Homo sapiens: one gene and its partners. The protein of the gene in region 1 interacts with the protein of each later gene in a pairwise test. Each region holds a gene or a part of one and is shown in the gene's direction. Other genes may lie near its edges.

The links. The genes of interacting proteins can lie anywhere in the genome.
Region 2: the proteins of ELOA2 (region 1) and CHD2 interact in binary tests that used the Homo sapiens proteins (3 or more experiments, as listed by UniProt).
Region 3: the proteins of ELOA2 (region 1) and SREK1IP1 interact in binary tests that used the Homo sapiens proteins (3 or more experiments, as listed by UniProt).

The regions. Positions count from the first base shown.
Region 1 is NC_000018.10:47,032,492-47,040,493, reverse strand, and holds ELOA2 (elongin-A2), read left to right. Parts: upstream 1-4,872; 5' UTR 4,873-5,229; coding exon 5,230-7,491; 3' UTR 7,492-7,967; downstream 7,968-8,002. UniProt on the Homo sapiens protein: SIII, also known as elongin, is a general transcription elongation factor that increases the RNA polymerase II transcription elongation past template-encoded arresting sites.
Region 2 is NC_000015.10:92,938,021-92,945,353, forward strand, and holds part of CHD2 (chromodomain-helicase-DNA-binding protein 2), read left to right. Parts: intron 1-1,557; coding exon 1,558-1,698; intron 1,699-3,801; coding exon 3,802-3,935; intron 3,936-4,822; coding exon 4,823-5,048; intron 5,049-6,394; coding exon 6,395-6,495; intron 6,496-7,333. UniProt on the Homo sapiens protein: ATP-dependent chromatin-remodeling factor that specifically binds to the promoter of target genes, leading to chromatin remodeling, possibly by promoting deposition of histone H3.3.
Region 3 is NC_000005.10:64,737,662-64,744,994, reverse strand, and holds part of SREK1IP1 (protein SREK1IP1), read left to right. Parts: intron 1-3,794; coding exon 3,795-3,938; intron 3,939-7,333. UniProt on the Homo sapiens protein: Possible splicing regulator involved in the control of cellular survival.

The DNA.
Region 1 (8,002 bases):
CAAATAGTTGAAAGCAGAATCTTGGCTTCTAGGCCAATGCTCTTCCTTTCATCAACTCCTCCTCATCATTCTCTCACCAATTTATATTCACTCCAGACCAGAGATAATCTTCTACTTTATATCATTTCATAAAATCCATACCCTGCACAACCACTATTTTAATTTACCAAAACCTGTGGGCCAAACTTGCCAGAAACAAACAACTGTGGTTACCAGCCGGTCTTTCCTAGTTGACCTAACAGAGTAATAAATGAATGATGTCTTTTACAATTTCTCAAACCTAATTTCCCACAATATTAGTGACCATTCCAAAGCTGTTACTGGCTAGACCTCCTTCAAAAGGTTAGTCACCCTGCTGTACCAGGAGTAGTATGTCTTATAAGAGATTATGTCTTTTAATTGCTGAATAGTTGCAGACCTGCTGTAAATAAAGCTAATCCATTTCATATGCATGTAAAAGTCTTTGAGAAAGCAAAGATGGGAATTGGCTTAAAGAGACATGAAAGTGATCTACATTTTTCTAAAGACTATATTGGACACTGACTGGTCCCATTTCTAACAATGTCCATATCCCTCCATATTAGAGGTTCTAACACAGTGTCCTGTACATCACATGAAATAAAGCCTGGAAAGTGCTTTGAAAACTGTGGGGGTGCTATGCCAATATTAGGGATAGTAATTGGTGGGTGCCCAATAGCTGTTAGTTGCTTCGTACATGCATTTCAGAGTCTCTCTATCCTTCACTAGAAGCATTTGCTTCTTCCTAATTGAAACATGTACTTGTGCAAATGTTCTCTAGGACTAGGTCACTGAGAAAAAGTAGCTAGTGTTCTGTGTGCTCCTCAGTACTGGATCCACTGCACTGGGTTTGGCTGAATTTCTTAAAGATGAGGAGGGTCAATTACACTATATTATAGAAATACTCCATGTGTGCACAGACATGCATATACCCAGAGGAAGACCCTCATTAGTGGGATGAAAAACTCATTAGGGAAAACTCATTAGATTTATTAGAGGAACAGAAAAAAAAAGATCCTGGAAGAAACATTTAAAAGCAGGGAGGAGAGGACTGGGGAGGATGGGAGAACTGCAGGAGGCAGTGGGTGGAGGGGATGGCAGGTAAAGGGTACAGAATTTCTCTTTGGGCTAATGAAAAGGTTCTAAAATTGATCAAGGCAATGGAAGTATATCTCTGTGAATATCTTGAAAGCCATGGAATTGTACATTTTAAATGGTGAGTTGTAAGGTATATGAATAAAGATATTTTAAAATGCAAAATGTGGGAGAGGGGCAGAGAAAAGAAGGCTTAAATAAATGTAAATAATTTAAGTAAAATTGTGGCTTGATATATAAAATAAATAGTCTAACTGAAAATATAAATCATTATATGCAATATTTTGAAGCTATTCAAGATGGAAATGATGGGGGTAAAAGAACTGGTTATCACACACAGCACCATGAGGGCCTGCTTTTTCAGCCCCCAGACAGAGCCTGTTTCTGCTTTGGAGTGTAGCAATGACACTTTATTACTACCCAGCCTTGCTCTATCAGTGTGACTACAGGAGTAGACTTACTGAACAGAAGAGTAATACAGGCATTTCTGTGTTCAGAATCTTCACATATTCATTTACAGCAGACATTTCTCTTTGCAGTTTTTCTTGTGGGTTTTATAATAATTTGCAATATATATACAAGTTGAAGAAACCACCTTAACTATTGTCTATACTTCTTCAGTTTTTTGGTACAAAAATAAGCTTCTTTCAATAAGACTCTCAAATTTTTTAAAGTGCAGCTATTTTTTACATTTTTACATCCAGATTTGGTAAGGTATTGAAAGAATATTGTATTTCAGATACAATTGGTGGGAATGTAAGTTGGTACAACCCTTTTGCAGAGCAAATTGACAAAATCTATCAAAGAGAAAAATGCGCATACCTGTCGACCCAGCAATATCACTCAGCAATTTATACTCTAGAGGATCAATTACACTATATTATAGAAATACTCCATGTGTGCACATACATGCACATACACAGAGGCAGAAAAATACAGTTTATTTTCTACTACCCACAGGTAGGATAGTGAGTTTCATAGCAACCCTAATAAAAGCAAGTTGGAACATTTGTCAGAATTATTTCCTTCAAACTCCTTTTTAGAATCCCTGGAGAGTCATTTAAACAGTGAACCACTGACCTAATTAACACAGTTAATCAGGATAAATAAGAAAGCAAAAGCTCTAATTCTTGAGACAGAGGTCTAATTCTTAATCCTAAACAAATCTGAGCAATGTTGATCATACTTTTGAAAGAATAGCCTAAAAGACAGGCTTACTCAGGGTTTTCATTACATTTCTGCAAAATGGCAGGTACTTCAACTCCAATCAAAAGAATTTCCACTTTTTTTTTATTAGAATCACAGTTTGCAAAAGAGTCGATGTCTATAATGGGGATTGGCTGAGTCCTTTAGAACTCTGTCTGGTAATGAGGCTGCATCAAAAATGGCTTTTCATGGTCGGGCACTGTGGCTCACTCCTGTAATCCCAGCAATTTGGGAGGCCAAGGTGGGAGGATCACTTGAGCCCAGGAGTTTGAGAGCAGCCTGGGCAACATAGGGAGACTCCCATCTCTAATAAAAAAAAAAAAATGGCTTTCCTACTATGTGGACTGTGAAGCAGCTTTTACTTGTGGTGACCAGGTCTTAAAATAATAATGTGATTTTTATTTTGTGGTAAGAGTGATAAAAATTCAGAATTCAGTAAGAGTAAAGCAGGAAAAGAGAGTTTTAAAAACACTATTCCAAATGTAGTGTTAAATATTTAAGATGAGCTTCTGTTACTGAAAACACAGAATGCAGTCTTACAAATTTCTTAATTAAAGGTATAAAGTTGGCCAGATCTACATCTTTCTGCCCAGGCCATTCAAATTAACCTAGAAAATTATCTTCTGAATTAAAAAAAACTAAGAATGAGCCATTCCCCGCAAAAAGGATCCATTTAAACTGTAAGAGATGGTGTGCCCCTGAAATGGACACAATTACATGCTCATTAATTTCTGTGTACAAAGAAAGGAGGCCCAGAAGTGAACATCTAATCTAGGTGTCTCATTTGCATGTTTCAATAATCTGGCTGTTTTTGTTTTCTTTCATTTCCTTTGTGGGCTATTGTGCCACAAATATACCTCCATTATCAAATTCAAAATTGAATCCTATGATACCATAGCCTGAGGAAAAGGAAGCATTGAATATCATTCCCAGTTTTAGACCCAGAAGATATTTAGGAAATGTTACTGTATATACACCACATGCAACATTAGTGCTTTTAATTTCCTTTTTACGGGTGCAATGGAGATTAATTTGCATGAGCTCGTTTCAATTTCAGTAATAAGATCCAAATTTTGCATTAAGCTTTCAATCTCAAAAACAAACAGTTAAAAAGCATACATCACTTCTTTCAAATGTCTTTACTATACTTCTGTTTTACAGTCCCTGCATCTAATATTCCCCTAAAAGGTTGAATATATATACCTGTAGGTTCTAATTTGTTTCTTGTTTGTTTCCTGACTATCTCCTGGCTCTGCCAGGAAACTTCCTAACTTTCAAATGCTGTACAACCCAAAAAAATGCTAGAAATATCAAAAGAAGTGTCTACAGATCCAGAAAAGACATTTATTGAATTTAATACAATGTCAGAATTGGTCAACTATGCTCAGAAACATAGGACCAAGTGTTCCCTAATTTGAGAGGGTAAATAAGTAACAACAGAAATAAGAGAAAAAACCATAGATATTTCAAATGATCCTGTTTTAATAATTGTCACTGAAAATTAAAGTCCGATCCAGATACCAAATCTGTTTCAACAATAATAGCTAGAGACAAGAGTAAAAATTTCTTTAAAGTTTTAAAACAGGTGGAAGAAGATCCAGAAATATTTATTCCAAGATTTGTAAGCGGGGATAAAACATGGCTACACTGGATAGTCCTGAAGAAAGAGCACAAAACAAAGGCTACCAAAAGGTGGCAGCACTCCAGTCAAAGACAGAGAGGACCAGTCAAGAGAAGAGGTCATGGCAACAGTTTTGGGGAATGCTCAAAAGATATGACTAAAAGACTTTTTGAAGGGCCAAACCAAGATCAAATATGCTTACTAACAGAGTTTTTGAGAAAACTAGCCAAAGCATGAGCAGAAAAACCATTACCAGAGAGTTCTACCTAATCATGAAAAAGTTCTTGCTGTAGCATTTCACTGAACAAAGGGCAGTTTGGCAAGAGTTTCAAAAGGAGATCATGAGGCGTCCACCTTGCAGTCATGATGTGGAACCTGCTGACTTCTATTTATTTCCTCGTATTAAAAATTCTGCAAACGGCACCCAGTTTTCTTCAGTTAATAATGGAAAAAAGATTTCTTGGAAATAGTTAAATTCCCAGAAACATCAGGGCTTGAGGGACAAGGCGGGGTCAAGACAGTGCTCGAACTACTGTCTCGAAATTGATGGAGCAGATGTTAAGAAATAAAATCTACCGGTTTTATTTTTGTCTTTTAATCCCTGTTTTGACAAATTTGGGAAGTCCCCTCACACAACATCAGTCCTAGGCAAAGAGTTGTTATCCTGTATTGGTTCTTCTTTCTATGATTTTGTCTTGCTGTGTTATTTTCTGTTTTACTCCCAAGAAGATTCAGTCTGTGTTTTTTGGAATTCACAGATGTGGAACCTGCGAACATGGAAGGTCAACGGTAAAACTCAGTGGGGTGTGTCGAGGCTGAAATTAACCTAATCAACCTCTGGGGCACAGCAGTCCACCTGGCGTGGACCGTCCCGATTGTCTGCATTGTGCTGACGGCATGAGTACGTATGGGGGCGGGGCAGCCCAAGAGCTAAGAGGGTCAGGGCTAGAGCCGTGAGTGTCAGCCTGGGATGGGCTACATAAGGCCCAGCTCTGGCACCAGAGCTTCATTCTTTGTTGCACAGCAAACTGCAGAGGTCACTCCAGGCTGTGGCTCCACATCCCGAGGAACAAAAGCGGGCCTGCTCAGCTGTCTGCAAGGACGGCCGTTCCAGACCAAGTGGCCTGCTGCTCCGAGGACCCAGCTCGCTCCAGGCTGTGACTCCACATCCCGAGGTCGCTGCCTGGCGACCGGGCAGCGAGGACCGGCCACCCCAGACTTCCTGTCCCGCAGCCCCAAAGACAGAGCTGCGACCGCCGGGACAGCGACGCCTGCACAGCTCTGGTGAGATGGCGGCAGGGTCCACTACGCTGCACGCAGTGGAGAAGCTGCAGGTGCGTCTGGCCACTAAGACGGAGCCGAAAAAGCTAGAGAAATATTTGCAGAAACTCTCCGCCTTGCCCATGACGGCAGACATCCTGGCGGAGACTGGAATCAGAAAGACGGTGAAGCGCCTGCGGAAGCACCAGCACGTGGGCGACTTTGCCAGAGACTTAGCGGCCCGGTGGAAGAAGCTGGTGCTCGTGGACCGAAACACCCGGCCTGGCCCACAGGACCCTGAGGAGAGCGCTTCCCGACAGCGCTTCGGGGAGGCTCTTCAGGACCAGGAAAAGGCCTGGGGCTTCCCAGAAAACGCGACGGCCCCCAGGAGCCCATCTCACAGCCCTGAGCACAGACGGACAGCACGCAGAACACCTCCGGGGCAACAGAGACCTCACCCGAGGTCTCACAGTCGCGAGCCCAGAGCTGAGAGAAAGTGCCCCAGAATAGCCCCAGCTGATTCCGGCCGCTATCGGGCCTCTCCAACGCGCACAGCTCCCCTCCGGATGCCCGAGGGCCCTGAGCCCGCTGCGCCCGGGAAGCAACCCGGAAGAGGCCACACTCACGCGGCTCAGGGCGGGCCTCTGCTGTGTCCAGGCTGCCAGGGCCAACCCCAGGGGAAAGCCGTTGTGAGCCACAGCAAGGGGCACAAATCGTCTCGCCAGGAAAAACGCCCCTTGTGTGCCCAGGGAGATTGGCACTCCCCTACTTTGATCAGGGAGAAATCATGCGGGGCCTGCTTAAGAGAGGAAACCCCAAGGATGCCCTCCTGGGCAAGTGCCAGGGACAGGCAGCCTTCGGACTTCAAGACAGACAAGGAAGGGGGGCAAGCTGGCAGCGGCCAGCGTGTCCCTGCCTTGGAGGAGGCTCCAGACAGTCACCAGAAGAGGCCTCAGCACAGTCACTCGAACAAGAAGAGGCCCAGTCTAGACGGCCGGGACCCAGGAAATGGGACACACGGCCTGTCGCCCGAGGAGAAAGAGCAGCTTTCCAACGACCGAGAGACTCAAGAGGGGAAGCCACCGACTGCTCATTTGGACAGAACGTCCGTGAGCTCCCTCTCTGAGGTGGAGGAGGTAGATATGGCTGAGGAATTCGAGCAGCCCACTCTGTCATGTGAAAAATACCTCACCTACGATCAGTTGCGGAAGCAAAAGAAAAAGACTGGAAAATCTGCCACCACTGCACTTGGAGATAAACAAAGGAAAGCAAACGAATCCAAGGGCACTCGTGAGTCCTGGGATTCGGCTAAGAAATTGCCTCCTGTCCAGGAAAGCCAGTCAGAGAGGCTGCAGGCGGCCGGCGCTGATTCCGCCGGGCCGAAAACGGTGCCCAGCCATGTCTTCTCAGAGCTCTGGGACCTCTCAGAGGCCTGGATGCAGGCCAACTACGATCCGCTTTCGGATTCTGACTCCATGACCTCCCAGGCAAAGCCAGAAGCACTCTCTTCACCAAAGTTCCGGGAGGAAGCTGCTTTCCCTGGACGCAGAGTGAATGCTAAGATGCCGGTGTACTCGGGCTCCAGGCCTGCCTGCCAGCTCCAGGTGCCGACGCTGCGCCAGCAGTGTGCCCAGGTGCTTAGAAACAATCCGGACGCCCTCAGCGACGTGGGAGAGGTCCCCTACTGGGTTCTTGAACCTGTTCTGGAAGGGTGGAGGCCCGATCAGCTGTATCGCAGAAAGAAAGACAATCACGCACTCGTTAGAGAGACAGACGAATTACGGAGGAATCATTGTTTCCAGGACTTCAAGGAAGAAAAGCCACAGGAAAACAAAACTTGGAGGGAGCAGTACCTGCGGCTTCCGGACGCCCCAGAGCAGCGGCTGAGAGTAATGACAACGAATATCCGATCTGCACGTGGAAACAACCCCAACGGCAGAGAGGCAAAGATGATCTGTTTCAAATCTGTGGCCAAGACGCCTTATGATACTTCAAGGAGGCAAGAGAAGTCTGCAGGAGACGCTGACCCCGAAAATGGGGAGATCAAGCCAGCCTCCAAGCCCGCGGGAAGCAGCCACACTCCCTCCAGCCAGAGCAGCAGCGGCGGTGGCAGAGACAGCAGCAGCAGCATCCTTCGCTGGCTCCCTGAGAAGCGGGCCAACCCCTGCCTGAGCAGCAGCAATGAGCACGCGGCGCCCGCGGCCAAAACCCGGAAACAGGCTGCCAAGAAAGTGGCCCCGCTGATGGCCAAGGCAATTCGAGACTACAAGAGAAGATTCTCCCGACGATAAACTCAGGACTTGCCTTGCAGATAAAATCTGGGGGGATTTTTGCATTGGCAAAGTCAATGCGGGTTGGGGAACGAAACTTCCAATGGACACCAGAACCTTTAACTTGGTGCAAAGTTGAGCCTTTGAATTCTGCAGGTGTCATGTGCTGGCCCTGTGATTTTGCCTCCCACACCCAGCCACTACCTCCCAGCTTGGAGAACACCTCAGAATTCAGAAGATATGAACGCATTGGGAACAATTCTATTTTGGATGTTCACTGATAATTTTTAAAAACACCCTAGTTGTAATCATAAATAAGGAAAAAGATGTGAGATTTCCTTTTTCCTTTCTTTTTTTTTTCGAAATCAAGTAGATAAGAACTTCTTAGACAAAAACACACAAGCCATTAGTTGACACTGATAACTCCGAATACATAAAATGTTTGCTGTTGCTGCCGTTGTTGTTGTTTTAATAAAAGGCTGAGCATGATCTTGTAATCGTGAGCCATCCTCCTTTGGGAGGTGGAGGAAAG
Region 2 (7,333 bases), on another chromosome or scaffold:
AGCAGCAAATTATGCTAATTTTTGATAAGACAGATGGCAGCCTAAGATAGTGATGACAGGAAAAGGGAGTCAGAAGACAGGCCCCAGGGAAAATTACCTCCTTGTAGTATTGCTTAGAATGGACTCAGCAAACTATGCCCTTTGGGCCAAATTTCATCCACCACCTATTTTCATATGGCCTGTGAGCTAAGAATAGTTTTTATAGATGAACATTTCTAATTTACAGTTTAAGGATAGAGAGCACTAAATTTGAACTCCAATTAAGTGAAATGTTATCCCCTCAAAAACAATTCTGTTCTCATTAGTAGATATATATTGCAGTAAATGTACCTGATTATTTCATTTTGAATTATTTAAAAAAATTTGTGAAAATTTATTTTCTTTCATTATGTAAGGACCTATACATTGGTCCCCATTTTGCCTCTTGGCTGGCAGAGCCTAAAATATTTACTCTCTGGCCATTTACAGAAAAAGTTTGCCAACCTCTGGCCTAGGACATTGTACTTACCCCCCAACACCAGCAGGGGAATTTGTCAACTGAATTTTATCTTATTTTATCTCAGCTTAATAAGTTTATCTCAGAACTGTCACGCCAGTTCTGTCTTTTAGAATTTTGCTCATTATTTATTACATCGTTGATCATCTGTTTAGGTTTGGTTATGAGAAAGGTATGGGAGGTATGAGAGAAAGAGATAATAAATGTGATCATGAGTATCCATTTCTCTCCCTCTCTGACTTCTTTCACCTTTTTATCACTGATGGAATATTTGGGGATTTCCTTAGGTGAGCTTCTAGACTGTGGCTTTCAATCCTGGCCATCTCCCTGGTCTGTCCAAGTTAATTCTGTGATAGGGCACACAGTCTCTCAGGTAGTATTCCAGGTATATTTTATACACATACAGTAAAAACTTATGTATAGTTACTTCTTGTGCTTTACTTTCTTCACACAGATAATAGCATCCTCTGCTGCTTGTTCTGTAGGTTTCTTTATCCTGGAAATCCTTTCGTATTAGTATACAAAAAACTCTTTTTTTTTTTCTATGAGTACATGGTACTGTTTAGTTTCCAGTTGAAGAATATTTAGAGTTTTCTTAATGTTTTGTTGTTGCAAATAATGCTATAGTGAATACTTTATTATGCCTGTTTAGGTGTATATCAATAGGATTAATTCCTACAAGTAAAACTGTTAATTCCTACAAGTAAAATAGTTTGATAGCTATTTCCAGTTTGCCCACCAAAGAGATACTATCATGAACAACATGCTGTGTATGTGTTTTTATATCAGGTAATCCTGATGAACATTTGTGAAACATTCACGTTCTTTCCCATAAATGATTGAGGATTATCAGCATTAGAATGACCTTCCTGTTGGAAATCCAGATTTCTAGTGAATTAGAATTTCAGGGAGTAGGGCCCAAGAATATGCATGTTTAACATTCCCCAAGTGAAATGTTACATTCTGATGTATGAACCACTGCTCTGGGAAATACTGTTATATAAAGTAGACACCAAATGATAAAGTGAAGACTTAGCCTTTTGTTTCTCTTCTCATTTTAGAACAGTGCCCAAACCTCGTGTTAAAAAGCAGCCGAAGACTCAGCGTGGAAAGAGAAAAAAGCAAGATTCTTCTGATGAGGATGATGATGATGACGAAGCTCCCAAAAGGCAGACTCGTCGAAGAGCGGCTAAAAACGTTAGGTAAGTTGTACCCCAGAAGTGTTTCACTGGTGTGATGTGATAAAGTAGTTGGTTAGATTTTGGTTCTCATAAGTCCGGGGTTGTGCACTTAATAGATAAAAATAACAGCCTATGTCCTGAAGTTGTTTTCAGAAATCTGGTTAGCTTTCTTGCAAAAAGAGTGGTATTGAGCCAAGGGGAATAGGAAAAGAGTAGCAATAGCTCATTTGAAGCCTTCATTCCTAAAAAACACCACAAGTTCGTGTCCTGTCCAATGGTGACTTAGTGGCATTATCTTCATTTCATAACATTTTTTTCCATTAAAGATATTTGGATTATATTCCTACTTCTGAATTGCTCTTTGAATCACAGACGTTTTTCTGAGGTTCAGCTTAACGTATTGCTACTTGAATCTGATTTTATCAAGTACTAATAGGATATGAAGCATTAATAGGAATTATCATTAGTGAAATAGGCCAGGCTCAGTGGCTCATGCCTGTAATTCCAACACTTTGGGAGGCCGAGGCAGGCAGATTGCTTGAGCCCAGGGGTTTGAGACCAGCCTAGACAACAGGGCGAGACCCTGTCTCTACAAAAAATAAGAAAAAGCCGAGTGTGGTGGCGGCATGCACCTGCAGTCCCAGCTACTTGGGAGGCTGAGGTGGGAGAATCCTGGGAGATGGAGGTTGCAGTGAGTTGAGATCACGCCACTGCACTCCACTCCAGGCAAAAAAGCTAGATCCTGTCTCAAAAAGAAAAAGGAAAATGAAATAAAGGAACAGATATATGCAAACACTAGTAGTTTACTTTATAGAAATCAAGTATTTTTTTTTTTAGATTTTACAGATTTGTTCTTCATAGAGATGGTGAAAATGAATCCTAGAGATATTCATAACTTATTCAATGTATCCAGTTAATAATTCCAAAGCTAGGACTGGGCTTTGAGTATGCTAGTGTATAGCCTAGCACTTTTTCTTACTGTAACTGTACTACATCCAGGATTGTTTTTCTTTCTTGTGACTCAATCATTCATTGTTAATATGTGATAGGAAGTTACATATATAAAAATATATATAAAAAATATAAAAAATATATAAATATATAAATAAATATAAATATATATAAATATTATAAATATATAAAAATATATATAAATATATAAATATATAAAAATATACATATAAATATATATAAAAATATATATAAATATATATATAAATATACATATAAATATATATAAAATATATATAAATATAAATATATATAAATATAAATATAAATATAAATATATATATAAATATATATATATAATTTTTTTTTTTGAGACGGAGTCTTGCTGTGTTGCCCAGGCTAGAGTGCAGTGGCGCGATCTTGGATCACTGCAACCTCTGCCTCCCGGATTCAAGTGATTCTGCTGCCTCAGCCTCCAGAGTAGCTGGGATTACAGGCGCCCACCATGCCGGCTAATTTTTGTATTTTTAATCGATACGGTCACCATGTTGGCCAGGCTGGTTTCTAACTCCTGACCTCGTGATTCACCTGTGTCAGCCTCCCAAAGTGCTGGGATTACAGGTGTGAGCCTCCGCGCCTAGCCAATATGTTTCTTTTTTTAAACCAGGAAGTATTTGTGTTGAAGCTTCCAGCAGTCTGGGAATACTTAAATTTCATATTCTTATTACTGGGAGACAACATACAGGGTTGACATTTTTAATTTTAGAAATATTGCTTCTCTTTTTGCCTGATGAAATAGTAGCAAATTTTTTCTTCCATTATGGTTTTTCTTTTTTTGTGTGGTAGTCTACTTGTTTACATAATAATCTGATACTAAAAAATGAAAAAAATAGAAGTGTCCTTATAGTTTTCTATATCTTGCTTATACAAATCAGTATAAATATAGAATTTTTATTTTCAAATTGAGTTAGACTCCCTACAGTTGTTTAGGAGCATTCATCAGCACTTTAGGAAAAAAAAGTAAGCTTTGAGCCTACTGTAAATGGCAGATCTATAAAACAACATGCTTTTGGAACCAAAAGGGTATGGTTTCTTATTCTAGTGACGGTTATGTGTGGCAGTTTAATTCTGAAGAGATCATTTCTCATTTATTCAGCATTATTCCTCTTGCAGTTACAAAGAAGATGATGACTTTGAGACTGACTCAGATGATCTCATTGAAATGACTGGAGAAGGAGTTGATGAACAGCAAGATAATAGTGAAACTATTGAAAAGGTCTTAGATTCAAGACTGGGAAAGAAAGGAGGTATGTGTATTTGGGGAGCAAATTACATTTTATGTATGCTTAGTAAGACTTAGATTTTAGGTATTTTAACTCTAATGTGATGAATTTTAGTCTACTGCTGTATTTGTTGTGATATGTAGAAGTCTTTCTGACCCAGTGTTTCAGAGCTGAGGACAAAGGTATGTGTACACTATGTCTTTAAGATTTTAAATTAAGCTAGTATAGATAAGTGTCAATGTTTTATAAAGCAGTGATATAGCAGAGATACCTGCTAATTAACATTAAGCAAATCCACCTTTGGTTATTTGTTTCTTAAGCTCCTTGTGAAAATATCAAACTGGTTAAATAAATATTGTGGTAATATTGAAGATTTTTAAATATCTAATTTAGATATCTCATAACTAAGTTGCATTAAAGTAAACTTTCTGTAAAGGAAATACCAAAATAATACTTAATGCTTTTTCTTTTGGCTTTTTTTTTTTTTTCTTTTTTTCATTCTGGCTTCGATTGAGGTTAAGAAAGTTAACCGGGGACTTCGAGTAGGGGAGGTTGGAGGAGGATATTTTGGTGTTCTATCCTTAGTCTTGGAGAGAGGGATTTGTTTTCCGAGTTAGTAAGGGACCAAAACAAAAGGATGTTGCTGCTCTGTTTTTATTGTTTTTGAATAAGGGATTTCTTTGATTTCACCTGCAAATTTAGGAATATGTAAAAAGTGGTTTACATTTTTAAAATACTTGAAATTTTTGATTGAGTCCGTTCTGTGTTGTTTGTGAGTTTGTACTTATTTCAAGTTGAAGTATTTTGGTGCTTCATCCACAAAGGGAGTCTTCAGATAATTGCATTCTTGGGAAGCTTTTTAATATCTGGTGTAATATACTCTCTTTCAAGTGTACTTAATCCTTTTGCAGCCACTGGAGCATCTACTACTGTATATGCGATTGAAGCTAATGGCGACCCTAGTGGTGACTTTGACACTGAAAAGGATGAAGGTGAAATCCAGTACCTCATCAAGTGGAAGGGTTGGTCTTACATCCACAGCACATGGGAGAGTGAAGAATCCTTACAGCAACAGAAAGTGAAGGGCCTAAAAAAACTAGAGAACTTCAAGAAAAAAGAGGACGAAATCAAACAATGGTATATTTTCCATCATGGATTAAAGAAATGTATTTGCAGCCTGAAAGAAGGGAAGGTTTTAAAATAATGCATGGAGATCACAGCTATCTAGAATCTCAGATTTTGCTTTGATCATCTAAACATGGAGCCATTTACAATTCTATTTTATAAGATTGTGACCTTCAGATACTATATTTTTATATGTGGCTACCAAGTTTTTGGAGTTAACTAGCTTATGGAGCGTTATTCACACATTCTTTAGTTTTCACAATAAGTGCATGAGATTTGTACTGTTATTACCCATTTTGTAGATGGGGAGAATACGGCACACAGCAATTCTGCAAGTGGACTCAGGTTTTGAATTCTGATGCCCTGAATCCAGAGCTTATTCTCTTAAGCACCTTGTTATTTTCCTGTAGTTAGGCTGGGGTGGCTTAGATGTAGAGAGTTAATATTCTGGAACTCTCTGGGTTATGATATACTTAAAACAAATTCTGGTTTTATACAATTTGCAGAAATGATGTGAAGGAAATTATTAGGTTAACTACTGAAACTGTGATAGTCCTCGTGTGTTTAGTTTACTTACAGCCTTGAATGTCTGGGTGTTGTATATGGGAAATATGTGGAGCTATAGCACACAAAAACCTAAACTGGGTAATAATGGTATCAAGCTCAGCCTGAAGACATACCTGTCTGTGTGGTGTGATTAGCCTATTTTTGTGTCTGGAATGTGCATAGATTTTTGTGTCTGGAATGTGGACAGTAATTCTGGTTTTACTACTGTGCAAAATGTGCTACTTTAGTAAATTACATGTTTTTTCTTTGACTCAAAACTGAAAATATGTACCCCTTAGATGGTGAGGTAGGCTTGTAAAGCAGTTAGAAATTTGAAATCCTCTGAAATATAATAATTCTAATATTAAGTTGCTGCTGTTGTCATCTGAAAGGTTTTGGTAATAAGAATAACTAGTTTTCCAAGTCATGTTTAATCAATCCTAAAACCCATATATATATAAGAAAAGGCGTACAGTTTTATTATCCTGATTTGTTGAGATGTATGAATTTGCCACATGAATCTATCACATAAAAGAGTTATTTTTGGGTCTCTTTTTAGACAGGACACATCAGAGGCAGGTAACTGGTATATCCTTCTATGAGTGTAAGGTTTTCAGTGTTCTCTAAAAGTGTTTTTTTTGTTTGTTTGTTTTGTTTTGTAAAATCTCTGGCGTAATTACTAGTAAAGATTACTTAAGGGGCAGATGGGAGTAAAAAATAGGTTTTCTTTTCCACCTTTGACTTTTGCTTTGATGTATGTGGATCCCCAGACTTTAGTTTATGTGTACTTTTTCTGTCTGTCTGCCATTCAGGTTAGGGAAAGTTTCTCCTGAAGATGTAGAATATTTCAATTGCCAACAGGAGCTGGCTTCAGAGTTGAATAAACAGTATCAGATAGTAGAAAGAGTAATAGGTAAGTACATGGTAACTCACTTCAGCCATATTTGAACTTGAGGAATAGTGGCTTTTGCTTTTGGAAGTAATGTAAATTTTAAAAATGCACTTTGGAGACTAGACACGTGCTAGGTTTATTTTAAAGGAAAAGCTAAGAAGATTTGCTGGTAAATTTGGATGTGGGGGATGAGAGAAAGAGGTGTTAAGTATGACCTCAAGATTTGTGGCCTAAACATGTAGAAGTTTAGAGGTACCATTTACCGAAGTGGAAAGATGAAGGGAAGAGCTGATCATTGGAGTGGAGACCAAGAGCTTAGTTTGATATTTGTAAGTTTGATTTACTTCTTAGTCATCTAAGTGGAGAATATAGTGAAGGCTGGAGCATATGTGAACCTGGAGCTTAGGACTCTTTAGTCTGGGCTGGAGATTTAAATTTGGAAATTTATCAGTATTTAGTATTTAAAGGCCAAGATTGAACAGGACCATCAGAAATAGAGTATCACGTGGTAAGAAGAAGTAGTCTGAGAGCATTTCAGCTTTTGGAAGTCAGAAAGAAGCTAGCAAAGGAGACTGAGAAAGAACAGTCGGTGAGACAGGAGGAGAGCTGAGAGAGAGTGGTGTACTGGAAGCCAAGTGATTCACATAGCCAGGAGAGAGGAAATGCTGTCAGTCAAGGACGATTAGGACTGAGACTTGATCTGTGAATTTGGCACTGGCAAAACGCATCCATGGAGTGGTGAGGGTGCGGCCTGATTAGGGTAGGTTCAAGAGAAAATGAGAGGGGATAGCAAGTATAAACAACTCGTTGGGGGAGTTTTCTTACAAAGGGGAACAGAGAAGTGGAGTGTCAGCCTGAG
Region 3 (7,333 bases), on another chromosome or scaffold:
TAAAGTCAGACTCCTTAAAAAGGCTGTGAAGCAGGGATTAGAAAAAATTTCACTCACTGAAAGAAGCAAGAATGCGTATAGTGTGTTTGAGTTCCCATAAGATAATTAGAAGAAAACAAATAAGAATTGGCAACCTCAGCCTATACCTTGTAAGTATATGTAAGTATGAGGAGTGAATTTACACGGCTTCCTGTGAAGCAGGAACTATTTTTCCCATGCTAAGAAATTAATGTTAAAAATTGTGCTGATATCAAATCAAATTTAAAAAATTAAGTCCAACTACGTGTTGTGATTAATAAAACTACACATAAAACTAAAAACTACACAGAAATTTTCAAAATAAAGGGACAAGGAAAAAACACATATTTGATTGAACATTGCTGATATTCCACTATTTTACCTACAAAAATGGCAATTTCATATTACCCAACGAATAATAAACAAAAGAGCACTAGTGGAACTGTTAGCGGTGGTGGGTATCCTAGTTACCGGTGGCGAATCCGTCCAGGTCTGCAGCAACCTCTATTCTTGCCACCTCAGAAGAAAGAATTCTACTGAGGGTCATGAGACAGAAGAAGAGACTGAGGCAAGTTTCAGAGCAGGAGTAGACATTTATTAAAAAGCTTTAAAGCAGGAACGAAAGAAAGGAAAATATACTTGGAAGAGGCCCAGACAGGCACCTTGAGGTTAAGTGCCCCAATTAACATTGAACCTAGCATTTTACATGCTGGCTTACTTCCAGCGTCTTGCACCCCTTTCCCTTCATTGTTCTCTTATGCATGGTGCCCTACCTGCGCTTGGGAGGTGAGCATGCACAGTGTGTTTACTGGAGTTGTACACATGTTCACCTGAGGCTTTTTCTTCCCTTTTCTGGTGGAATGCCCCCAGAAGGTCATACTCCTTCATTTTTGCCTCTTAATGCACATGCTTGTGTCCACTTGCCCGGTTCCTGAGATCTTATTGGAAGCTGCTGATTATCAATTTCAGGTATTTTTATCTGTTCAGAAACTGCTTCTCCCTGGCACTGGCTGTGACCAATTATCATTTTAGAGAGACAGTGTGACAGCTGCTGGACCATCACTTGATGGTTGCCTGATGTTCCTTTGTGAGTGGGGGAGCCCTCTCCTGCTCCACTCATGCCTGACTAGCTACCTACTATAACAGAACCATTATAATTTCAGACTTTTGAGGCAAAAGCACTACTGGTGATAAGTGGAAACTCACGAACAATAAACTAAAAAGATAAAGTAATGATCTTCAAAGCATTTACTAATGTCTCAAAATATATAGCAAAATCTGTGTTACAAGGAGAAATTGACAAATCTACCCTAGAGAAAACCTGGTGCATGCCCACAGAGATGTCTACAGCTGCTCATTTCAACATTATTTATAATAGCAATTATTGACAAATCAATACTTGTATAATTTTAAGTACTTCTATCAGAAGTTATTAGACAAAAAAATTAAGATGGAGAAGAGTTGAACAAGCAAACAGATATAGAACCCTTTTCAACAAATAACAATATATGGTTGTGTTGTTTAACAACAGGGATACATTCTGAGAAGTGTGTCATTAGGCAATTTCATCTTTGTGTGGAAATTATAGAGTGTACTTTCACAAACTTGGATGTATAGTCTACTACACACCTAGGCTACATGGTATAGCCTATTGTTGCTAGGCTATGAACCTGTATAGCATGTTACTGTACTGAATAGTGTAGGCAGTTGTAACACAGTAGTAAGTATTTGTGTGTCTAAACATATCTAAACATTGACAAGGAACAGTATTATTATCTTATGGGACCTGTGTTGTCTATGTGGTCCATCATTGACCTAAACACCATTATGCAGTATATGACTGTGTTTTCAAAATACATAACAAATCTTTCCTAAATTTACTACATCCTAGGCCACAAAAGAAGTCTCATCAAATACCAAAGAACTAATATCATACAGATCCCATTCTCTGATAACAGTGTAGTAAATTTAGAGATTGACAATAAACACAAAGCCTGAAAACTCCATATGTTTGGAAGCTAAAAAGAGTGCTTCTGAATGATTCATTTGTTAGGAAATCACAGTGAGGAAAACTTGTTCCAATAATATGGCAGACTAGACTAAGAAACAACTAAGAAACTTGTATAAAATGTGCAATACATATTTTAGATACATTAATATACTAGAAAAAAATAAAGAACTAAGAATATTCAAAGGCCAACAACCAAAGGAAAGGAGAAGTTCCAGGAATTAAGCCTTGAGGATATTTGATGAACCCTAGGCTCTTGAACTTCTATTTTTTATGGGCTGGCAGGATGTGGGGGATAAAAATAAGGCCCAGGGCCCTGCCCAAGCCAAATTGGAACTCTATTTAGAGAGTCTCTGGTATAAACCTAGGACTCCCAAAGGACTTCACCCACAAAATAAGAGACAACTGGAAACAACCCCTAGCATAGATTTGTAGTGAATCATTAGTGGATCGTGAAATGAATTATTTGATCACCATTAGCCTTGGTTGTTTTGAACATTGAATATAGAAATCTTTCAATTAACTTTTGTTTCAGTTTTTGTGTGTTAGGGTGTATTTATCCATGAATGTGTGTATGAGTGCACTTGTTTGCATTATTTTTTACTGTTCTCGGTTGTTAAGAAAACTTGAAAGCTGCTACCCTAAAGAAAACCTAGTACATGTGCACAAAGAGACATGTACAACTGCCCATTTAAACACTTTTTATAATAGCAAACTACTGGAAGCAACCTACGTTTCTATCAATAGTACAGCAAATAAATATAATTTTCATACAGTAGAACATTATCGATTAGATAAAATGAGCAAATTACACCTGTTATGTTAACATAGATAAATCACAAAATATTGGGTGGCAGGAAAAAATTGCAGGTATAGGTATAATTGAGTTTATTTTTTTAAGAATACATATCACAATATGTTGTTTGGGAATGATAGAGACCAACTTCAGTGCAGTTGCTTCAGAGGACAAAAAAAAAAAAATGGAATGAGATTGAGAAAGTGTTCCAAAAGTTGATACAAGCTCTCCAGCTGTGTGTGTGTGTGCGCACAGGCATGCGAGTGAGCTTTTTCCTTAAATGAATTGAAAGTGAGCATGACAAAATGTTAACATTTGGATGATAGGTATTTAGGTATTGGTTATATTATTTTCTTTACTTTTATAGTGTTTGTAATATTTGACTTTCTAAAACATATACATAAGTAGATAACTGTTGTAGTTTTCTTATAGGGTAGAGTCTTTAGGGAAATGATGCAAGAATTAAATGTTTAGGTATTCTTTAGTAAAGCACATTCAGTTATATTAATGCTTGTATATTATTATGCCAACTTTAATTAGATGAAAGGTATATAATTGCATGAGTACATTTGTCAAACTGGGAAAGAAAAGGTATGGGAAAGGAATATAATATAAAATCCCAAGTATGATGGTATTTTTTATTTACTTAGTTTAGTTAAAGATATTACTGTATTTTTAGAAAGGGAAATAGAATAACTCAATACTTTGAAATCCATAAGAAGTGGCCCCCAAAAATGCTTATTGAATAAGGAGTTCTGAGGAAGAAAGGAAAAAGTTCTTTCTGAGTATTGCATTCATGGAAAAGTATAGGGAAAATAACCAAACTACTACCAACTGAATAAAAGTTAAAGCTTTCTACATTATATTATTGAAATTGTAACTTACTGGTTACCGTGAGGCAGCAAAACATACAAAAATACATAATGTATCTATAGTTTTATCACTCACATTTTTTTTGTTTGTTTCACTTAGCTGGTCACCTGACTTTTGAATGCCGCAATTTTCTCCGAGTAGACCCTAAAAGGGACATAGTTTTGGATGTCAGCAGTACAAGTAGTGAAGATAGCGATGAAGAGAATGAAGAACTGAATAAATTGCAGGCATTACAGGAAAAAAGTAAGCAATATTTTTTTCCATTCTTTAGAAATGTTTGTAAATGTTCTGTCATATTATATCATGCTTTCCATTATACTTACTAAGATCTCTTTTATAGTTTATGTAAGAGCTACTGCATAGGAAATAGGTTTTAAATATTGTAAGTTATTTGCCTAAGATTGAACAGCTAAGCAATTACAGATCCAGGAGGCAAGTCTATTTCTGACACACAGCTTATGTTTTTTGTTGTTGTTTTTCCCCCATCACATTAGGATATGTGTCAAATGGCTGAAAAAGTGTGATTTAAGATTTGGTTTCTAGTCCTATTTGGCAATTTGTTTTAGCACATGACTTTCACCAAGTGACTTAACCATCCTGAGGCTCAGCTGCCTTGTGGGATAACACAAAATGTTGGATTGTCAAATGATGCTCATGCAGATCAGTGATCTTAGCCAGTATCAAGCTTCACTAATAATTTCAAGTATACAAGTGATCGTGAGGCATAGGCAAAGCAGAGAGTTCTGGGCATGCCAATACAGCTCCCCAGGTATTTCCTTTCTACTTCATAACCCACTGTGATCAATATTAACATAAGAAGTTTCTTTATTACTTATACCAAAGAAAGTTGATTTGGTCATGAAACATACTCATTTTATGCTTGGATAGTTACATTTTCCAGGGAGCTATGCCCCATAAATCTATAGATTCCAGGTTTGTTTACCATAAGCAATCTCAGTTACATCCTACTAAAAGGATGTAAATGATAATTATATAAATAGGGGTTCTATGGCTAACAGATATCATTTATTTTTTTTCCAGGAGATCTATTGTTAGTGTGTTTCAGAGAGATTTCTCCAGGTCACTCTCTGTCTTTCCTGGACACATCCTCCTCTCTCCCTAGAGAGAGAGTGGATAGCGGACCTGTTATTTAACCCTTTCTTTCCCACGTTGTGTATAAAATAGCTCATCCTTGCAGTGGGGTTTTTAGGGATTAAACGTGATGCCATAAATTAAACTACTTTGTAAACTACAAAATGCACTATGGTAAATATCACTCTGAAATAAAATATAACTTATTTGAATATAATCTTAGACAAGGAATGAGAGAGTTACAAATTTTAAATTCATTTTAGTTTAGATTGTCGATGAACATTAAACAGTAAACTTTGTTTTTAATATCAAGCTTTCCATATTATGTCCAGTTAAGGTAAGTGAAGAAGTCAAATGTAAGGTGCTAGAACAAGCTGAAAAGGAAAAAGAGGGAGAGAATCCCAAAGAGGGCAAACAAGAGTCATATCATATATGAGTATATACAGCTTCAGGGTAAAGACAGTTGATTGAATACACACACTTTTGTTCTCTACTGAAATACCACTAAAATGCCAGAAGTAGAAAAAAATTTAAAGACGTAAACTCACAAGGGCAAAGAAACTGAGTTAGGAGGGAATAGCAGTAAAATTTTGGAAACTGAAAAGCAGAAGAGTGATAACTGATTACACTCTTGAAAAAGCTAAATTCTTCAGCAGTGTGGAAAGCTGTGAAGTAACCCGACATATATTCTAGAATCCCCTAAAGACATGATAATTAGTATCCTTGGGTACCTCTGGCTGAATATAAGGCTAAAAACAGGAGGATTGGTTTGAAGTCTCCACGAGTTAGACCCTCAGTTCCCTTCCCCTATGAAGTCAGATGACTTCCCTTCATCACCCCAGCAGACTACTGGAGGTTTATTTTCTAGAGAGGGTAAAACATAGGTTCTTTAGACTGGGACACACTAACCATAGCTGAAAGCAGGGAGGAAGTTAAAGGCTGAGAACTTTCTTCACCTATTTGGTTCCCAGACATATATCACAATTAGTCTAGGAAATACTTCACTCAAATGAGTCCCAGAAAGAAAATTTCGAAGAACTGAAGGACATTAGTTTTACAGTTGAAAAGGTGTCACAAGTACCAAACACAGAGCTAAAAATAGACCCACACAAAGGCACACCATTATAAAACTTCATATCACAGGGAACAAGGAAAATATAATCCAGGCTTCCAGGATCAGGGATTAAACAGGTCATCTGTCAAAGATCAGGAGTCAGAATAGCTTTCCACTTCTCTAAAGCAGTCCTGAAAGCTAATAGATGTGGGGAATGCCTTCACATTTTGGAAGGGAAATTATATCCAAGTCAGAATAATATTTTCAACCAAATTATTAGCCAAGCGTGAAAATAGAATAAAGTTGTTTTCAGATATCTTCATTTTAGGTTGATTTTTATATATGGCATGAGGTGAGGGTACAGTTTTATTCTTTTGTATGTGGATATACACTTGACCCAAGACCATTTGCTGAAGACATCCTTTTCCCATTGTGTGTTCTTAACACCCCTCATGGTCAGTTCATCATATATGCATGGGTTTATTCCTGGACTTCCTATTCTGTTACATTGGTCTATGTGTCTGTCTTTATGTCAGTACAATACTATTTTAATTACTATAGCTGTGTAATATATTTTGAAATCAAGGAATGTGATGCCTACAGCTTTGTTCTTCTTAAGATTGCTTTGGCTGTATGGGGTCTTTTGTGGTTCCGTATACATTTTTGGATTATGTTTTATATATCTGTCAAAAGAGCCATTGGGATTTTGGTAGGGATTCCATTGAATTCATAGATTGCTTTAGATAATGTAGGCATTTTAACAATATTCTTTCAATCCATGAGCACATATATTGTCAAATGCTCTTTCTGCATCTATTGAAATATTCATTTGATTTTTAGCCTTCCTTTCTTAATGTGATGTTTCACATTTATGGATTTGCATATATTGAGCCATCCTTGTGTCCCATGGATGAATCCCACTTGATCATAGTGTATGATCCTTTTAATGTGCTGCTAAGTTTGGTTTGCTAGAATTTTGCTGAAGATTGTTGCATATATGTTCATCAGGTGTATTGGTCTGTAATTTTATTTTCTTAAGGTACCTTTGTCTGGCTTTGGTATCAGGGTGATACCAGCCTTGTAAAATAAGTTTGGAAGTGATCTCTTCTCTCCAGTTCTTTAGAAGTGCTTTGGAAGAATTGGCTTAATTGCTCTTTAAATGTTTGGTTGACTTCACCAGCAAAGCCATCTAGTCCTGGGCTTTTCTCTGCTGGGAGGATTACTGACCCAGTGTCTTTACTTGTTACTGGTCTGTTCCTATTTTCGATTTCTTCATGATTCACTCCTGATACATTTTATGTTTCAAGGAGTGTATTCTTGTAAGTTACCCAATTTGTTGACATATAAATGTTCCTTGTATTCTCTTATATAGTTATATATTTATATAACACCCCTTTATATTTCTGTGACATCACTTATACTCTCTTTTTTCAGTTCTAATTTTGGCCCTGTCTTTTTTCTGAGTTAGTCTAGTTAAAGATATGTCAGTTTT